2 separate regions of the Homo sapiens genome follow, and region 2 is linked to region 1. The links come from fine-mapping of genetic effects on gene expression. Tissue or cell type: sun-exposed skin. Region 1 holds a variant in brackets; the other region holds the start of a gene. All regions are shown on one strand. Distances are from middle to middle.

The links. PIP is the estimated chance that this variant, and not a neighbour inherited with it, causes the effect.
Region 2: DPP7 starts here. The variant in region 1 is fine-mapped to the expression of DPP7 in sun-exposed skin (GTEx, PIP above 0.99).

What each region holds. Positions count from the first base shown.
Region 1 is chr9:137,153,021-137,161,020 of GRCh38, reverse strand. It overlaps GRIN1 (glutamate ionotropic receptor NMDA type subunit 1), which reads right to left. Exons shown (of 20, transcript NM_007327.4): 5 at 4,231-4,352; 6 at 3,984-4,158; 7 at 2,498-2,642; 8 at 2,317-2,400. LOC105376328 (a long non-coding RNA gene) reads left to right here. Exons shown (of 3, transcript XR_007061878.1): 1 at 1-837; 2 at 1,244-1,312; 3 at 2,032-5,999. Among named protein-coding and RNA genes, the nearest start is that of MIR3621, 12 kb to the left of the region's middle. The variant T/C (reference allele first, on the strand shown) is at 4,682.
Region 2 is chr9:137,110,417-137,118,416 of GRCh38, reverse strand. It overlaps DPP7 (dipeptidyl peptidase 7), which reads left to right and starts at 3,684. Exons shown (of 13, transcript NM_013379.3): 1 at 3,684-3,770; 2 at 3,841-3,954; 3 at 4,035-4,174; 4 at 4,389-4,552; 5 at 4,921-5,056; 6 at 5,130-5,211; 7 at 5,298-5,464; 8 at 5,612-5,672; 9 at 6,187-6,305; 10 at 6,388-6,544; 11 at 6,663-6,727; 12 at 7,467-7,537; 13 at 7,634-7,871. The coding sequence starts at 3,704. The coding sequence ends at 7,769. It overlaps LOC124902314 (a long non-coding RNA gene), which reads right to left and starts at 3,618. Exons shown (of 2, transcript XR_007061874.1): 1 at 1,373-3,618; 2 at 639-1,246. RefSeq lists silencers at 3,459-3,808, 3,839-3,988.

The DNA.
Region 1 (8,000 bases):
ACCTAAGGCTGCCCAGGGCGGCAGTCTCTTCTCAGCTCCCAGCCTCCCCTGGCGCCCCTCTTAATCCCCGACGCACCCCTCACACCCCCCGCCCTGCGCCGCCGGCCACTGCCCCTCTCTGGAGCTTCTTCACGAGCCCAAGTGTTCAGGACACGTCCTCCCCAGCCACCGTCAGCATCGTCTGCCTGCAGCCCCGGGGGGGTGGGGGCTGGGGGCTCAGAAAAGACTCCTGGAGAGCTGGACCCTTCTCTTGGCCACTTTTTCTCCAGTCTTGGCTTAGACATGATTCCCCGCCAGGTGCTGTGGCTCACGCCTGTAATCCCAGCACTTTGGGAGGCCGAGGCGGCCGGATCACGAGGTCAGGAGATCGAGACCATCCTGGCTAACACGGTGAAACCCCGTCTCTACTGAAAATACAAAAAAATTAGCCGGGCGTGGTGGTGGGCACCTGTAGTCCCAGCTACTCAGGAGGCTGAGGCAGGAGAATGGCGTGAACCCGGGAGGCGGAGCTTGCAGTGAGCGGAGACCGCGCCACTGCACTCCAGCCTGGGCGACAGAGCGAGACTCTGTCTCAAAAAAAAAAAGACATGATTCCCTCCAGCAGAGGAGCCGCTGATGTCCCGTGTATGCCAGGCATCTTCCTGGGGTGAGAAACAGCCCAGCCTGCAGGCTGACCCCCACCCTGCTGTGCCACGAGGACAGGGGCATGTCCACAAAGCCGACCCTGCACCTGCACAGGACCTGGGACCCGTGGGGCCACCCACCCGTGCCTCCCTTCATCCCGGCGCACTGCCTGTCCCGGCCCCCAGTCCCGAAGCCCTCAGGCTTTGAATGTAGGTCTCTGGCTCCTTTCTCTTGCCCGTGTGTACGTGCTCCACCGCGCCGTGGCCTCTTCGACCCACACTCCTGCTTGGGCTCGCCCTCCTGTCTGTCCTTCAAGGGACCATGGCATGGGGGTGGGGAAGGGATCTGGGGCACAGGGGGCTGGAATAGAGCATAGCACACTGCCAGAACTGTGAGGGGAGATGGTGTCAGAGCTGAGCCCTCAAGGTGGGCAGGGATCAAGCAGGTGCCTGAGGGCAGGTGGAGCAGAGGAGTCTGCAGTCCAGAACTGCAAAGGCAGGGAGGCGTGGGGGTGGTGGGAGAGGCACCCTCCCGGCATGTCCTAGGCAGGGTGAGCCTGAGAGGGGGGCAGGCCCGCCCACCCTCAGCCTCCAGGCAGCATTTTGTCTTTTATCCCCAGGGGAATCAGGAGCCATTGAAGAAGTTGATTTGCTTTATAAAACTTTCATTACATTTTCCTGTTATACAGGTAATATATATGCTAGTATTTTTAAAAAATTAGTGAGGCCAGAAACAAATTTGTAAAAAGCCATCTCCATCTCACAGCCTAGATGGGGCCTTTTGGCCATTAGCGTTTGACCGCTGCTTTCAGACTTTTCAGTGTGAGGTGTCTGGGCTGCAATGAAACCCACACTGGCACTGGAAAACCCCACCCTGTCTGCAGAGCAGGGAAGGGAGCTTGGGTGAGAGGCCACAGGGGCCGGTGCAGAGCAGGGGAGGGAGCCTGGGTGAGAGGTCACAGGGGCTGACACCAAGCTTCAGGGGTGGGCTCAGAAAACAGACAGGGTCAAGAGACATTTGAGGGCTTGGAATGACCGAGAGAAGGTTGGTGGGCGTGTCGCCTGTGAGGTCCTTGCCTTTGGTGGTCTGTGATGCTACCAGGACTGGAGTGTGTGTGGAGTGGGGGTAGTGTGGCTCTGCCCGGGGAGGAATGGCCAGGAGAGCACCCTGGAGTAGGGAGCCAAGGGAAAGATGTTCTGGAGGAGGAAGCCGGCGAGGGCAGAGGCTCTCAGAGGCCCAGGGGAGTCAGGAAGGGCTGTCCCACACGGTGGAAGAGGACAGTTTGACCCGGTCCCATCAAGAGCAATGCAGGCTGGAGGAGGGATGAGGGGTGTGGAGGACCAGGACTGGGGACAGCGAGTGCTGAAGCTGAGGTCTGCCTGCTGTCCCCCATCTGCTCTTCCCCAGCAGGGTCCTGTCAGACAACTAACTGCCCCAGACTTAAGTAGGGCTGGGTCAAGAGGGGCACTGGAGACCCCCTGTGGGATGGGGGCAGCTTCCTCTCCTCCCTCCTGTTCTCTCTGCTTCCTGTGCTGTGCCAGGTGTGCTGGACGGTGTCCAGGGGAAGCAGGCCCCACCCCCACTTCCTTTAGTGGCTTTCATTGACCTCACCGCACCCTCCTCCTTCAGGCCAGAGGGGGTGGATGGGCTGTCTGGGGTGGGGACACTGAGGGAGGTCTGTGGGGCCCCCACCTTCAGTCTGGTGGACATCTGGTACCCTCGAGGCTTCTCTGTCTCTCCGCCTGGCCAGATGATCTTCCTGTCATTAGGGATGACCTGGGGGTGGGAGTATGAGATGGAGGGTGGCCACGCAGGGGTCTTGGCCCCAGGACCCTAAGGCCCCAGCCCCCACCCCCTCATGACCCCCACCTACGTGGGTGCCATTGTAGATGCCCACTTGCACCAGCTTGCGGTTCTGCAGGTTCATGATGCTGTAGTTGGCGAACTTCCGGTCCCCATCCTCATTGAACTCCACGCGACCAGTCACCCCATCCGCATACTTGGAAGACATCAGCACTCTAGGGAAGGAAGCATAGCTGAGGCTTCTCAGAGATGCTCCTTCTCCTGCTCCTCCCTGCTCCTTCCCCCTGCTGCTTCTCCCTGCTCCTTCCCCCTGCTCCTTCTCCCTGCTCCTTCTCCTGCCGGCTGAGCAGCTTGGGCTTTTCCCTTGTCCCAGTCCCAAGAACGGAAAGATCAGCAGACGCCAGACCCTGGACACCGTGGTATCTGCCTGCACCAGATGGACGGTGTGGTTCATGACAGCTGAGTGGTTTATGGGTGCCAGACCCGGCTTTCTGTGGGTTAGGACGTTGTCCTCAGAACCATCCTGCCTTACAGAGACGGAGGCAGAAGCTCAGAAGGATGCCTGCCCTCTTGCCAGCAAGTGAAGGCGAGGTTGAGCCAGCTCTAACCACCAGGCTGTCCTGTCCGGCTGTGTGTGCACGTGTGCATTGTACCCATCGGGCCACATCAGTGAACCTGTGTGCACACGTGATCCCTATGTGGGGTGCACCCCATGCATGTGCTTGTGTCACATGTGTGTCATGTGCCTGAGTCTGTGTGCACACATGGTTCTGTGTATGTGTGTCGTGTGTGTGCACACGTGCTGCCTACATCTGCACTTATGTGGGCGTTGTGGATGGTGGCTCTGCACGTGCTACTCAGTGGTTGGGGATCTGGGGGTGAGCTGGCATGGCATGGTGTCCAGGCGTGCTGTGAGCTAACTCCTGCCACACTGCAGATGTTCACTTGGGTCTCTGGGCCTTGGCCAACCCTGGCTGTCTAAGGCTCGTGTGCTGTTCTTGGGCTGCTTGTCTGGCCTCCTGGGTCCCTGGAAGCTTTCAGTCCCCATCTGCATCAAGAGCCTCCTCCCAAAGGCTGCCAGCCACACAGGGAGAGGGGTGCTGTTTCAGGGTGGGCTGCAGTGTGGAAAGTAGGGGCGGAGGCAGTGGAGCCAGTCCCCACTCCAGTGACGGCCCAGGTACTGGTGTCAGTGTTGAGAAGAGGGCAGATGATTGTGCCATTAGATGTGGTGGTGCTGGGGGTGTGGGGGGAGAGGAGAGAAGTAACAGTGTCCAGAGGATGTTGGCAGCAGGCTCCACTGCAGTACCCCTGAGAGCGACGCCGCCCACCTCCTGGAAGCGACCCCGCCCACCTCCCCGAGAGTGCCCCCACCCATCTCTTGAGGAGCGCTCCCCCAGCTCCCTAAGAGCGGCCCCGCCTAGTCCTGAGAGCTGCTCCGCCCAGCTCTGGAGAGTGGCCCCGCCCACCTCCCCAAGAGCGGCCCCGCCCATCTCTGGAGTGACCCCGCCCACCTCCCCAAGAGCAGCCCCGCCCAGCTCCGGGGAGGCCCCGCCCACCTCTTGAAGAGCGGCCCGGTCTTCCAGATGTTGGTGTTGCCCACGCAGCCCCGCGGCGGGTCGGTGATGTTCTCCTTCTCGAGGAGCTCGTGCACGGCCTGGGCCACCACGCCCACGGCGTCGCTGATGTGGGCCGACTCGTTCTTGCCGTTGATGAGCTGCAGCCCGAGGATGCCTAGGCGAGCATGCGACTCAGAGCCCGTGGGGTCCTCCCCGTTCGGGGACCCCGCCAAGGCCCAGCACTCACCGTCTGGGGCGTAGCGCAGGGCGTTCCCCGAGATCTCGCGCTCGCCGACCAGCCACACGTACCCGGAGCCCGTCATGTTCAGCATCGCGGCTGCGCGGTATACAGTGGCAGCATCGTCCTCGCTGTGGGGCAGACGGGGATGACGGGCCAGGACTCCAGCACTCCCACCGCGGCGCTCCGCAGGCCCAGGTCCTCCTCCTCTGGAGCAGGGACCTGCCCAGCCCCCATCCCCTCCTAGAGCGAAGCCTGCAGACCTCGCAGAGGCGCTGCGGCCCAGAACCCAGGAGCCTCCCAGGCCTCCGTTGCTGGCTCTTACCTTGGGGGAGCAGGGATGGGGTTAGATGCTGGCCCCCTTACCTTGGGGGAGCAGGGATGGGGTTAGATGCTGGCCCTTACCTTGGGGGAGCAGGGGTGGGGTTAGATGCTGGCCCTTACCTTGGGGGAGCAGGGA[T/C]GGGGTTAGATACCTGGCTTATGGGACTGACTTCCTTCTTGTGACCTGCACCTGTGCTCCCCAGCACGCCCTTCCCTCCACCTCAGAAGGCTCTGATGGGGTCCCAGGATGGTAATGGATCACCATTGATCACTTGCTGGCCAGATACCAGGCACTGCTCGAAGTGTTTTACGGGGATTATGTTGTTTAACTTTCACAATATCTCTGTGTCCCGAGGGGAAGCGGAGGCACATGGGACACACAAGAGTTGGTAAGTGGCAGAGTCAGGACCCGAGCTCCTAAGACCTCCTAGACAGGCCACACCCCTCTGGTCCTCTATGTTCAAACATGTGAAATGAGGGGTTGAGTGGCTCTCCAGGTTGGTGAGATATTGGTGGATCCAGCGTCCTGGGGACGGCCAGAGATGAGAGGCGGCTTTCCCCCTGGAGTCTGCATAAGCAGCTGCCTTCGCCCAGCCACCCAGGCCTGGGGCCTGCAGGAGGACAGAGCCCAGACAGGCCTCACCTTGCAGGCATGTGTGGTCTTGAGCTCTGCCAGTGTGCTTGCAGGTGGGCCCCTGTGGACAGTGGAGCAGGGGACCTGGTCCTCTGGGGCTGGGGCCTCTCTGGTTATGACAAGGACCTGGAGACCTGGTGGGACTCTGGAGGCCTTTGGGGGGTCTTCCCTCACCCCCGTCTGTCAGACCTTTCTCTGCAGGGCCTGACCTGTCTCCAGGTGGGCCTGGACTACCCCTGACACTTTGCTTCTCCAGACATGGGCAGCAGGGTTGGGTGGATTGCCTGAGTGTTGGATAATTTTCACAATACTTGACTGGAAACCAAGGTGGCCCTCCCCTCCTTGAGGAGGGATCTGCCCCCAGTTTTCTCGAGAATAAGCCCACAAAGAAATGCAGCCCTTCGGTGTTTGCTCTACATAACGATGCTATTGGATGTCAGTGACACAAAACAGAAGTGCTCCCAGTAGCACTGGCCCAGTGCCCCAAATGAGAGCATCTAGCAGAGGCTCCGCACACTGAACACAGCACAGCTTGTCCAGCAAGACCCAACACCACACGTGTCATGGCACAGCATGCCCGCTATCAAAGTGCCCACCAGGGCCTGACAGACAAGCCCGTCTTCTTGACGCAATTCAGGTCCATGACATGTGATGTGGTGGAATGATTAGGAGCAAAACAGTTGTAAACAAAAGCCTGATCTGTCCATCAAAACTCATCCGATCGTTTTATGGAAATAGCTGATACCAATCAAGATGACTTCAGGAAAATGAAAAGTTTTGGAAACAAATTATCTGCATGCTATGGAAAATTGTCAAAAATTAAGATTGGCGTCATGTCTCTCTGCAAAACACCCTCAACAACCTTCACTAAGGAGGAGCCAAAATATGACAGGCTGAAGGTCTGGGGTCAAGAAGGCCTGTGCCTGCCACTGCCCAGGGCTTGCCTCTCTGCACTCCTGGGAGATGGGCATGCTGGGTGGGCCAGTCGGCCTCTGCTGTGGGACTTTGGCCTCCACTCCAAGGAGCTCAGCATGTGAGAGGAGGGTCCTTTCCAGCCCTGACAGTCCAGAGCCATTGCTCTGAAGTATTTTGAGGCCAGGCGCAGTAACTGATGCCTGTAATCCCAGCACTTTGGGAGGCCGAGGCGGGCAGGTCTCCTGAGGTCAGGAATTTGAGACCAGCCTGACCAACATGGAGAAACCCCGTCTCTACAAAAACAAAAAAATTAGCCGGGGTGGTGGCGCATGCCTGTAATCCCAGCTACTCGGGAGGCCGTGGCAGGAGAATCGGTTGAATCTGGGAGGCGGAGGTTGCAGTGAGCCAAGATCGCGCCACTGCACTCCAGCCTGGGTGACAGAGTGAGACTCCATCTTAAAAAAAAAAAAAAAAAAAAAAAAAAAAAAAAAAAAAAAGTTGTTGGAGCTGGGGGTGGTGGCTGATGCCTGTCATCCCAGCCCTTTGGGAGGCCGAGGTGGGTGGATCACTTGAGGCCAGGAGTTCGAGACCAGCCTGGCCAACATGGCGAAACCCAGTCTCTACTAAAAATACAAAACTTAGCCAGGCATGGTGGCCTGCACCTGTAATTCCAGCTACTCGGGAGGCTGAGGCACGAGAATCACTTGAACCTGGGAGGCCGAGGTTGCAGTGAGCGAAGATTGTGCCACTGTACTCCAGCCTGGGTGACAGAGCAAGACTGTCTCACACACACACACAAAAAAAAAAGAAAAAAAAAAAGGCAGGCACGGTGGCTCATGCCTGTAATGCCAGCACTTTGGAAGGCTGAGGCAGGCGGATCACCTGAGGTCAGGAGTTCAAGACCAGCCTGGCCAACATGGTGAAACCTCATCTCTACTAAAAATACAAAAATTAGCCGGGCATGGTGGCACACACCTGTAATTCCTGCTACTCAGGAGGCTGAGGCAGGAGAATCGCTTGAATCCCAGGGGGCAGAGGTTGCAGTAAGCTGAGATCACGCCACTGCACTCCAGCCTGGGCAACAGAGCAAGACTCTATCTCCCCAAAAAAGAGAAAGAGTTATGTTGGCGGGTGTGTGGTTGATGTGTGCTGTGGTCAGTGTATGCATATGTGTGGGGTATGGTGTGCATGTAGCATGGGTGTATGGGTGTGCACATGGTGTGTGGTGCGCATGTGTGTTGTGATGTATGTGCATGTGTGCTGTGTGTACATGTATGTAGGTGTGCGTATATCAGTGGATGTCTTTGTATGTGATGTATATGGTGGTGTGTGTGCCTGTATCTGTATGTGTAGATGCACGTGTGTATGGTGTATGCATGGTGCATGTGTGTACACATGTGGTATATGGCATGTGTGCACATGTGTATGTGTTGTGTATGACCTGTACATGATGGTGCATGTGTGGGTAGAGATGTATGTGTAGTGTGACTATGGTGCGTACATACATTTGTGTGTGTATGCATGGAGCATGTGGTGTGTATGTGGCATGTGCATACATGCGTATGTGTTGTGTATGACCTATACACAATTCTGCATGTGTGGGTAGAGATGATGCATGGTGTGACTATGGTGTGTGTACATACATTTGTGCACATGTGTATGGTGTATGCATGGTGCATGTGTGTACACGTGGTATGTGGCATGTGTGCACATGTGTATGTGTTGTGTGTGACCTGTACATGATGGTGCATGTGTGGGTAGAGATCTATGAGTGGTGTGACTATGGTGTGTGTACATACATTTGTGCACGTGTGTGTGTGGTGTATGCATGGTGCATGTGTGTACACGTGGTGTGTATATGGCATGTGTGCACGTGTATGTGTTGTGTATGACCTGTACATGATTCTGC
Region 2 (8,000 bases), 43 kb after region 1:
CTGAGATTGCGCCATTGCACTCCAGCTTGGGCAACAGAGCGAGACTGTCTCAAAAAAAAAAAAAAAAAAAAAAAAAGCAGGCATTTCACAGCCATGTTCATCGCATCAATATTCACAATGGCTAAAACAGGCCGGGTGTGGTGGCTCACGCCTGTAATCCCAGCGCTTTGGGAGGCTGAGGCTGACAGATCATCTGAGGTCAGGAGTTCAAGACCAGCCTGGCCAACATGCTGAAAACCTGTCTCTACTAAAAATGCAAAATTTAGCCAGGCGTGGTGGTGGGTGCCTGTAATCTCAGCTACTCCGGAGGCTGAGACAGGAGAATGGCCTGGACCCAGGAGGCGGAAGTTGCAGTAAGCCGAGATCGTGTCACTTCACTCCAGCCTGGACAACAGAGTGAGACTCTGTCTCGAAAAAAAAAAAGGACAAAATGCTGTAGGATTCCACTGATATGACGTACCTGGAGTCAGCAGAGCCACAGAGACAGATGGTAGAATGGTGAGTGCCAGGGGCTGGGGTCCATTGTTTAATGGCTACAGTTTCTACTGGGGGTGATGAGATAGTGGAAAATAGTGATGACGGTGCACAGCGTTGTGAAGGCAGGAATGTACCTAATGCCACCAAATTTCACACGCGGAAGTGGTTAAGTGGTCAATTTTATATTATGTATAATTCAGCACACAGACCAGCACGGCCCCAAGTGCGGATGCAGTAGGTCACGGCCAGCCGCCCGCCGATAGCCTTTCAGTCTGAGGGACAGCACAGACGTGATGTGTGGCCGGGCATGGCCCCCAGTCTGTGAGCCATAGAGGGTGGGACTGGGTGTCCCAGCAGGAATCGGGGTGTGGAGGAGCTGCCTAGATGGTCTGGAGAGGGCAGATGGACCTCGAGGGGAGGGTTTGGGCTCAGCAGCCTCTCACCCTTGCTGGCCAGGCTCCCAGGATTCCCTGCCCAGGGACCTCTCACCCCCTCAGCTGGTGGCTCTGCAGCCAACCTGCCCGTCTGTGCTGCTCCGGGGATGGGCAGAGAGAGATCGGGGGTGTCTGCACAGGCATGGGCAGCCTAGGCTCACTTGCCCCTTGGGTGACCTACTGTGCCCTGCACAGGCTGACGAGGGCCCTGGCGATGCAGACCTGGGGTCCTCCTGCAGAAGTTGGGCCCCTTCACATGTCAGGTTGCTGTGCCAGTGAAGGGGTGGCCAGCCCCTCCACACCTGTGGGTGTTTCTCGTCAGGTGGGATGAGAGACTGAGAAAAGAAATAAGACACAGAGACAAAGTATAGAGAAGGCAGTGGGCCCAGGAGACGGCGCTCAGTATACGGAGGACCCGCACCGGCCCCGGTCTCTGAGTTCCCTCAGTATTTATTCATTACCATTTTCACTATCTTTGCATGAGGAATGCGGCAGCAGAGCAGAGGTCAGCAAGAAAATGTGAGCAAAGGCATCTGTGTCACAAATAGCTTGAAGGGAAGGTGCTGTGCCCGGATGTGCACGTAGGCCAGATTCATGCTTCTCTCCACCCAAACATCTCAGTGTAGCAGAGTAACAGAGCAGCATTGCCGCCAGCATATCTCGCCTCCAGCCACAGGGCGGTTTTCTCCTGTCTCAGAATAGAACTAATGTACGATCGGGTTTTACACGGAGACATTCCGTTCCCAGGGGCATGTCGGAGACAGAAGCCTTCCTCTTATCTCAACTGCAAAGAGGCCTCCCTCTTTCACTAATCCTCCTCAGCACAGACCCTTTATGGGTGTCGGGCTGGGGGACGATCAGGTCTTTCCCTTCCCACGAGGCCATATCTCAGGCCGTCTCACTGGGGGGAAACCTGGACAATACCCAGGCTTTCTTGGGCAGAGGTCCCTGCGGCTTTCCGCAGTGCACTGTGTCCCTGGTTAATGGAGAATGGAGGATGGCGATGACTTTTACCAAGCATACTGCCTGCAAACACATTGTTAACAAAGCACATCCTGCACAGCCCTAAATCCCCTAAACCTTGAGTCAATACAGCACATGTTTCTGTGGGCACAGGGATGGGGCTAAGGTTACAGGTTACCAGCACAGGCCTAGATGCCTTAAACCTTGATTCCATACAGCATATGTTTCTGTGGGCACAGGGATGTGGGCAGGGGACTGTGGCCACCCTCACCCCTGGCAGAGCCATGCTGGGTAGCCCCATGCCCACCCTTCCCGGCTTGGGAGGCCCTGGCTGCTGCCCAGAGGGGCATCAATGCCTGGGCCGTGGACAAGAGGGAAAGTGGCTTCCTTGGAAACCCTGCTCCTGGAGCCCTCCCTGAGGCTCTGGCCCCTCTGTGGGCCCAGCCAAGCCTGGAGCGTCTCCAGGCTCTGGTGTGCTTGGGGAGCTGGCCAGCTCTCGGCCTAGCTGGCGTCTCCAGAGCTGCGGTCCTGGGTGAGGGTTGCTGGTGGAGTTCTGGCCACCTAAGGCACCCGAGGGAGCCAAAGGAGCAGAGGTGTGGGGTGGGGGACGCCGTGGGGTACCTCCACATCCAAGGAGGTCTGCTGTTTGTCCTCACCCCCGTCCTGCGGGGGCCCCGGCAGGCAGCCCCAGGAACTGCGTAGGGATGGGACAGGGCCCAGATGTGAGGGCCGTGGTGGGGACGGTGTGTGGCCCTGGATGACCTCGTGTTGCAGTGTGACGTGATGGTCACTGCCACCATGCTGAGGGCCCCAGCCACCAGTCACCCACCATGGGGGGTGCCTCTGTGTGAGGCACGGGAGGGCCATGGCGTGAGGGGCTGTGGAAGTGGCCGGTCTTCTCCGCTCAGCCCCACACAGGATGGGCAGGGCAGGGTCATGCTGGCCGAGGGTAGTCTTGGGAGAAGGACAGGGTAACTCTCTGTAGCTGAGCCCCTGCTGCCCCTGCACCTGTTCTGGGCCTGGCTAGCGGCCCATGTACATCCCCAGCAGGACTCCACGTAGCTAGTCTGGCACCCACCACTACGGCCCCCTCACCCACTCCCTGAACTGGACGCTGGGGAAAGGTGACTTCTTCCATCCTCTGGGTGCTCCCCAGGGAGGAGGCCCCAGCTCCCAGCAGAGGCCTCTGGTCCCCCCTTGTCCCTGCAGGGCTGTGTGGGCACACTGGGTGCCAGTCGGAAGGGCAGGTGGCGATTCCCAGCTCTTGGGAGCTACCCGGCCACATCCCGGCCCTGCCCAGACGCTCCAGGGGCACCCCACACTCCTGCCCGCTGCGAGGCCCCGCCCCGCCAAGCCCAGCCCGTTATCGCTTGGACAAACCCTGGGTTGCTTTCTTCGGGGGGCCAGCACTCTGTTTGGGACCCTCTCCCTCCCGCCCTTAGGGCAGCAGAACGGCCCCCACTCTCCCGGCCCTGCCTTGGAGTGGGGCACCTGCCAGGAGCAAGTGCTGGGGAGGCTTGGCGGGCGCAGCAGGGACTCGCCCTAGCGCAGCTCCGGATGGGGCCGCGGTAGGAGGACGAGCCAGTGGGGCGGGAGGCCGCGGAGATGGCCCGGGGGCCCTCTGCTTCCCCGCGCCGTGCCCGGGAAGGACCCCTGGGCAGCGGCCGCGGGGCGCGGGGTGTTGGGGGGCACAGCCCCGGCGCGGCGCTGAAGCAGCGACGGTCTCCGTGGGGACCGCGGGCGCCCGAAACACGTGGGGCCTGGAGGGAGGAGCGCGCCCTGGCGGCCCCGTGACCCCGCCCACGTGACGGGCGCCCGCGGAAGGCGACATGGGCTCCGCTCCCTGGGCCCCGGTCCTGCTGCTGGCGCTCGGGCTGCGCGGCCTCCAGGCGGGGGGTGAGTGGCGGCGCCCCCCGGCCCATTCCCCGGTCCCGGCCCCGCCTCTGAGGTTCGCGTCCCCCCACAGCCCGCAGGGCCCCGGACCCCGGCTTCCAGGAGCGCTTCTTCCAGCAGCGTCTGGACCACTTCAACTTCGAGCGCTTCGGCAACAAGACCTTCCCTCAGCGCTTCCTGGTGTCGGGTGAGACCCCGGCCCCGGCCCGGCCGCCCCCGCCGTCCCGCCGCCCCCCGGCACCCTCGCCTCATCCGCCCTCCCCACAGACAGGTTCTGGGTCCGGGGCGAGGGGCCCATCTTCTTCTACACTGGGAACGAGGGCGACGTGTGGGCCTTCGCCAACAACTCGGCCTTCGTCGCGGAGCTGGCGGCCGAGCGGGGGGCTCTACTGGTCTTCGCGGAGCACGTGGGTGCCGGGCGGGGTCGCGGGCGGGGTCGCGGGGCACGTGGGTGCCGGGCGGGGTCGCGGGCGGGGGTCGCGGGGCACGCGGGTGCCGGGCGGGGTCGCGGGCGGGGGTCGCGGGGCACGCGGGTGCCGGGCGGGGTCGCGGGCGGGGGTCGCGGGGCACGCGGGTGCCGGGCGGGGTCGCGGGGCCGGGCTCAATGGCACGTTCCCCCAGCGCTACTACGGGAAGTCGCTGCCGTTCGGTGCGCAGTCCACGCAGCGCGGGCACACGGAGCTGCTGACGGTGGAGCAGGCCCTGGCCGACTTCGCAGAGCTGCTCCGCGCGCTACGACGCGACCTCGGGGCCCAGGATGCCCCCGCCATCGCCTTCGGTGGAAGGTGGGCGCCTCCCCCGGCCTCCGCACCCCCTCCCTCCCCTGCCCCGACCCAGCGCCCCCAGCCCTTCTCCCCACTCCCCTCTGACTCCCACCGCTGCCTTTTCGTAAGGCCTCAGGCAGTGGTTCCAGGCTTAGTGTTGCCTCCCCCAGGAAGCCCTCCCACCTGTCCTCCCAGCCACCTGCTCAGCTTGGATGTGCGGCCACACTAGCGGCCTTTCCCAGTGAGAGCTGCACCCGCACCTGGCCCAGGGTTGGAATTTGTGGGTCTCAGAAGTGTCGTCCTCCTTGTGGCACCTGTGGGCCCCTGAGGAGGAAAAGAGGAAATGGGGTGTTGGGGGCAGCAGCCCTAACCCTGTGTCCCTCACCCAGTTATGGGGGGATGCTCAGTGCCTACCTGAGGATGAAGTATCCCCACCTGGTGGCGGGGGCGCTGGCGGCCAGCGCGCCCGTTCTAGCTGTGGCAGGCCTCGGCGACTCCAACCAGTTCTTCCGGGACGTCACGGCGGTGAGTGAGGCTTGGGGTCCTCCAGGCCCCCTAAGGGACAGCAGCTGCAGTCAGCACGGTCTCTTTCCCCCAGGACTTTGAGGGCCAGAGTCCCAAATGCACCCAGGGTGTGCGGGAAGCGTTCCGACAGATCAAGGACTTGTTCCTACAGGGAGGTGAGGTCCTCCCACCGCCTCCCACTGCCTGACCCGCCCCAGCGCCAGCTATGCCCAAACTTCAAGTCTCTGCCCCTTCCACGCAGCCTACGACACGGTCCGCTGGGAGTTCGGCACCTGCCAGCCGCTGTCAGACGAGAAGGACCTGACCCAGCTCTTCATGTTCGCCCGGAATGCCTTCACCGTGCTGGCCATGATGGACTACCCCTACCCCACTGACTTCCTGGGTCCCCTCCCTGCCAACCCCGTCAAGGTGAGGCGCCGCCTCCCAGGGCGCAGGGAGAGGCCGGCTGGAGTGTCCCGAGGCTGGTGGTCAGCGGCCTGACCCTCATCCTGGGAGCCAGGGAGGCGGAGCTGGTGGAGGGGACCCCGCTGAGTCGCCGCTGCCCCTGCACTCCAGGTGGGCTGTGATCGGCTGCTGAGTGAGGCCCAGAGGATCACGGGGCTGCGAGCACTGGCAGGTGCCCTTCCCCCGGCCCCAGATGGGCAAGTGTGGAGACCCCAGGCTTGGCTTGGGTCCTGGGGCCGGGTGGGGCGAGGATCCGCAGCCCGGCCAGGGGCTTTGCCTCCTGCCCCAGGGCTGTGGTGGGGTGGACAGCACGACCTTCCCAGAAACCCTGGGGGAGGCAGGGGCCGTCCCTGGGGACCCTCTCAGCACTGGCTGTAGCCAGGCCCAGCTTGGTGGGTGCTGCCCAAGGGGCCCCTGGGGTCCCCAGCATGGAGGGCAACAGAGGGCAGCAGGCCCCACCCTGCCCCGTGGAGAGCGGGGGGGCCCTCAACAGTCAGGCCCGGGGCTGGCAGCACAGACACCGCCGACCTCCAAGCAGGTAGCCTGGAGGGCCTTCCTCACTGGGACCTACAGATCCCAGAGCCCCAGATCCCCTGCAGGACCATTCCGAGGGGGGACAGGTTGGTGGCCGGAGCCCGCGGTGTGTCTGTGTGTGGCCGCTGGGCCCCAGCGCCTCTCCTCCCCAGGGCTGGTCTACAACGCCTCGGGCTCCGAGCACTGCTACGACATCTACCGGCTCTACCACAGCTGTGCTGACCCCACTGGCTGCGGCACCGGCCCCGACGCCAGGGCCTGGGACTACCAGGTGTGGGGGTGTGGGTGGCCTGGAACCACTCGGGGGCAAGGGTGGGCGTGGGCTGGCCTGACTCAGGCTGGGGCACCTGCAGGCCTGCACCGAGATCAACCTGACCTTCGCCAGCAACAATGTGACCGATATGTTCCCGGACCTGCCCTTCACTGACGAGCTCCGCCAGCGGTACTGCCTGGACACCTGGGGCGTGTGGCCCCGGCCCGACTGGCTGCTGACCAGCTTCTGGGGGGGTGGTAAGGCTGAGGGGGGGTGGGCCAGCGTCCTGCTTTCTGCCCCGAGCTCTGCACCCCCTGCCCATGGCTCACAGCCCCCGTGAGGGGCCCACATCACAACTTTCTCTGCCCCTTGCAGATCTCAGAGCCGCCAGCAACATCATCTTCTCCAACGGGAACCTGGACCCCTGGGCAGGGGGCGGGGTGAGTCCTGGCCTGGGCCCTATGACCCCGTTAGTTTGTTTGTTTTTTTTTTGAGACAGGGTCTTTCTCTGGCGCCCAGGCTGGAATACAGTGGCGAGATCAGGGTTCACTGCAGCCTTGACCTCTGAGGCTCAAGCCTCCCAGTAACTGGGACTACAGGCGCTCACCAACATGCCCAGCTAATTTAAAAAAATATTTTTTTGTAGAGACACAGTCTCACCATATCGCCCAGGCTGGTCTCGAACTCTTGGGCTCAAACGATCTTCCCCGCATGGCCTCCCAGAGTGCTGGGATCACAGGCCCCTCGCCTGCCCCTACCCTGCTCCCGTCTCACCCCCAGAGTGCTGGGATCACAGGCCCCTCGCCTGCCCCTACCCTGCTCCCGTCTCACCCCCAGAGTGCTGGGATCACAGGCCCCTCGCCTGCCCCTACCCTGCTCCCGTCTCACCCTCAGAGTGCTGGGATCACAGGCCCCTCACCTGCCCCTACCCTGCTCCTGTCTTACTCCCAGAGTGCTGGGATCACAGGCCTCACACCTGCCCCTTCCCTGCTCCTGTCTCACCCGGTTTTGCCCCCATCATCTCGTCACTTCCCACCTCCGTCTCTGGCTGGTTCTCTCTGGTTGCTTGATGGGCACTGAGTCTCGGCTCGCCCTCTCACGTCTCCTCTCCAATGGGCCCACGGAGGCTGGGCAGTTGCCTCGTTCCTCACCTGATGGAGTTCTTTCCACTGACCACAGATTCGGAGGAACCTGAGTGCCTCAGTCATCGCCGTCACCATCCAGGGGGGAGCGCACCACCTCGACCTCAGGTGCGGAGGGAGGTGGCCTGGCGGTGGTCGCGGGTCGGGCGGGACAGGCTCACCGAGGGCTGGGGCTGACGGGCCCCCTCTGTGCCCGCTCCCCAGAGCCTCCCACCCAGAAGATCCTGCTTCCGTGGTTGAGGCGCGGAAGCTGGAGGCCACCATCATCGGCGAGTGGGTAAAGGCAGCCAGGCGTGAGCAGCAGCCAGCTCTGCGTGGGGGGCCCAGACTCAGCCTCTGAGCACAGGACTGGAGGGGTCTCAAGGCTCCTCATGGAGTGGGGGCTTCACTCAAGCAGCTGGCGGCAGAGGGAAGGGGCTGAATAAACGCCTGGAGGCCTGGCCATGTATGTCCCGTCCTTCCTGTCTGTGGGGCCCACACGCAGGCTGTGGGAGCGGGACCCTCGGAGACACGGCTGGGGACGCGGCGCACCCCACACAGGCCGGGTATGCCATGTGCTCCACAAGGTAGA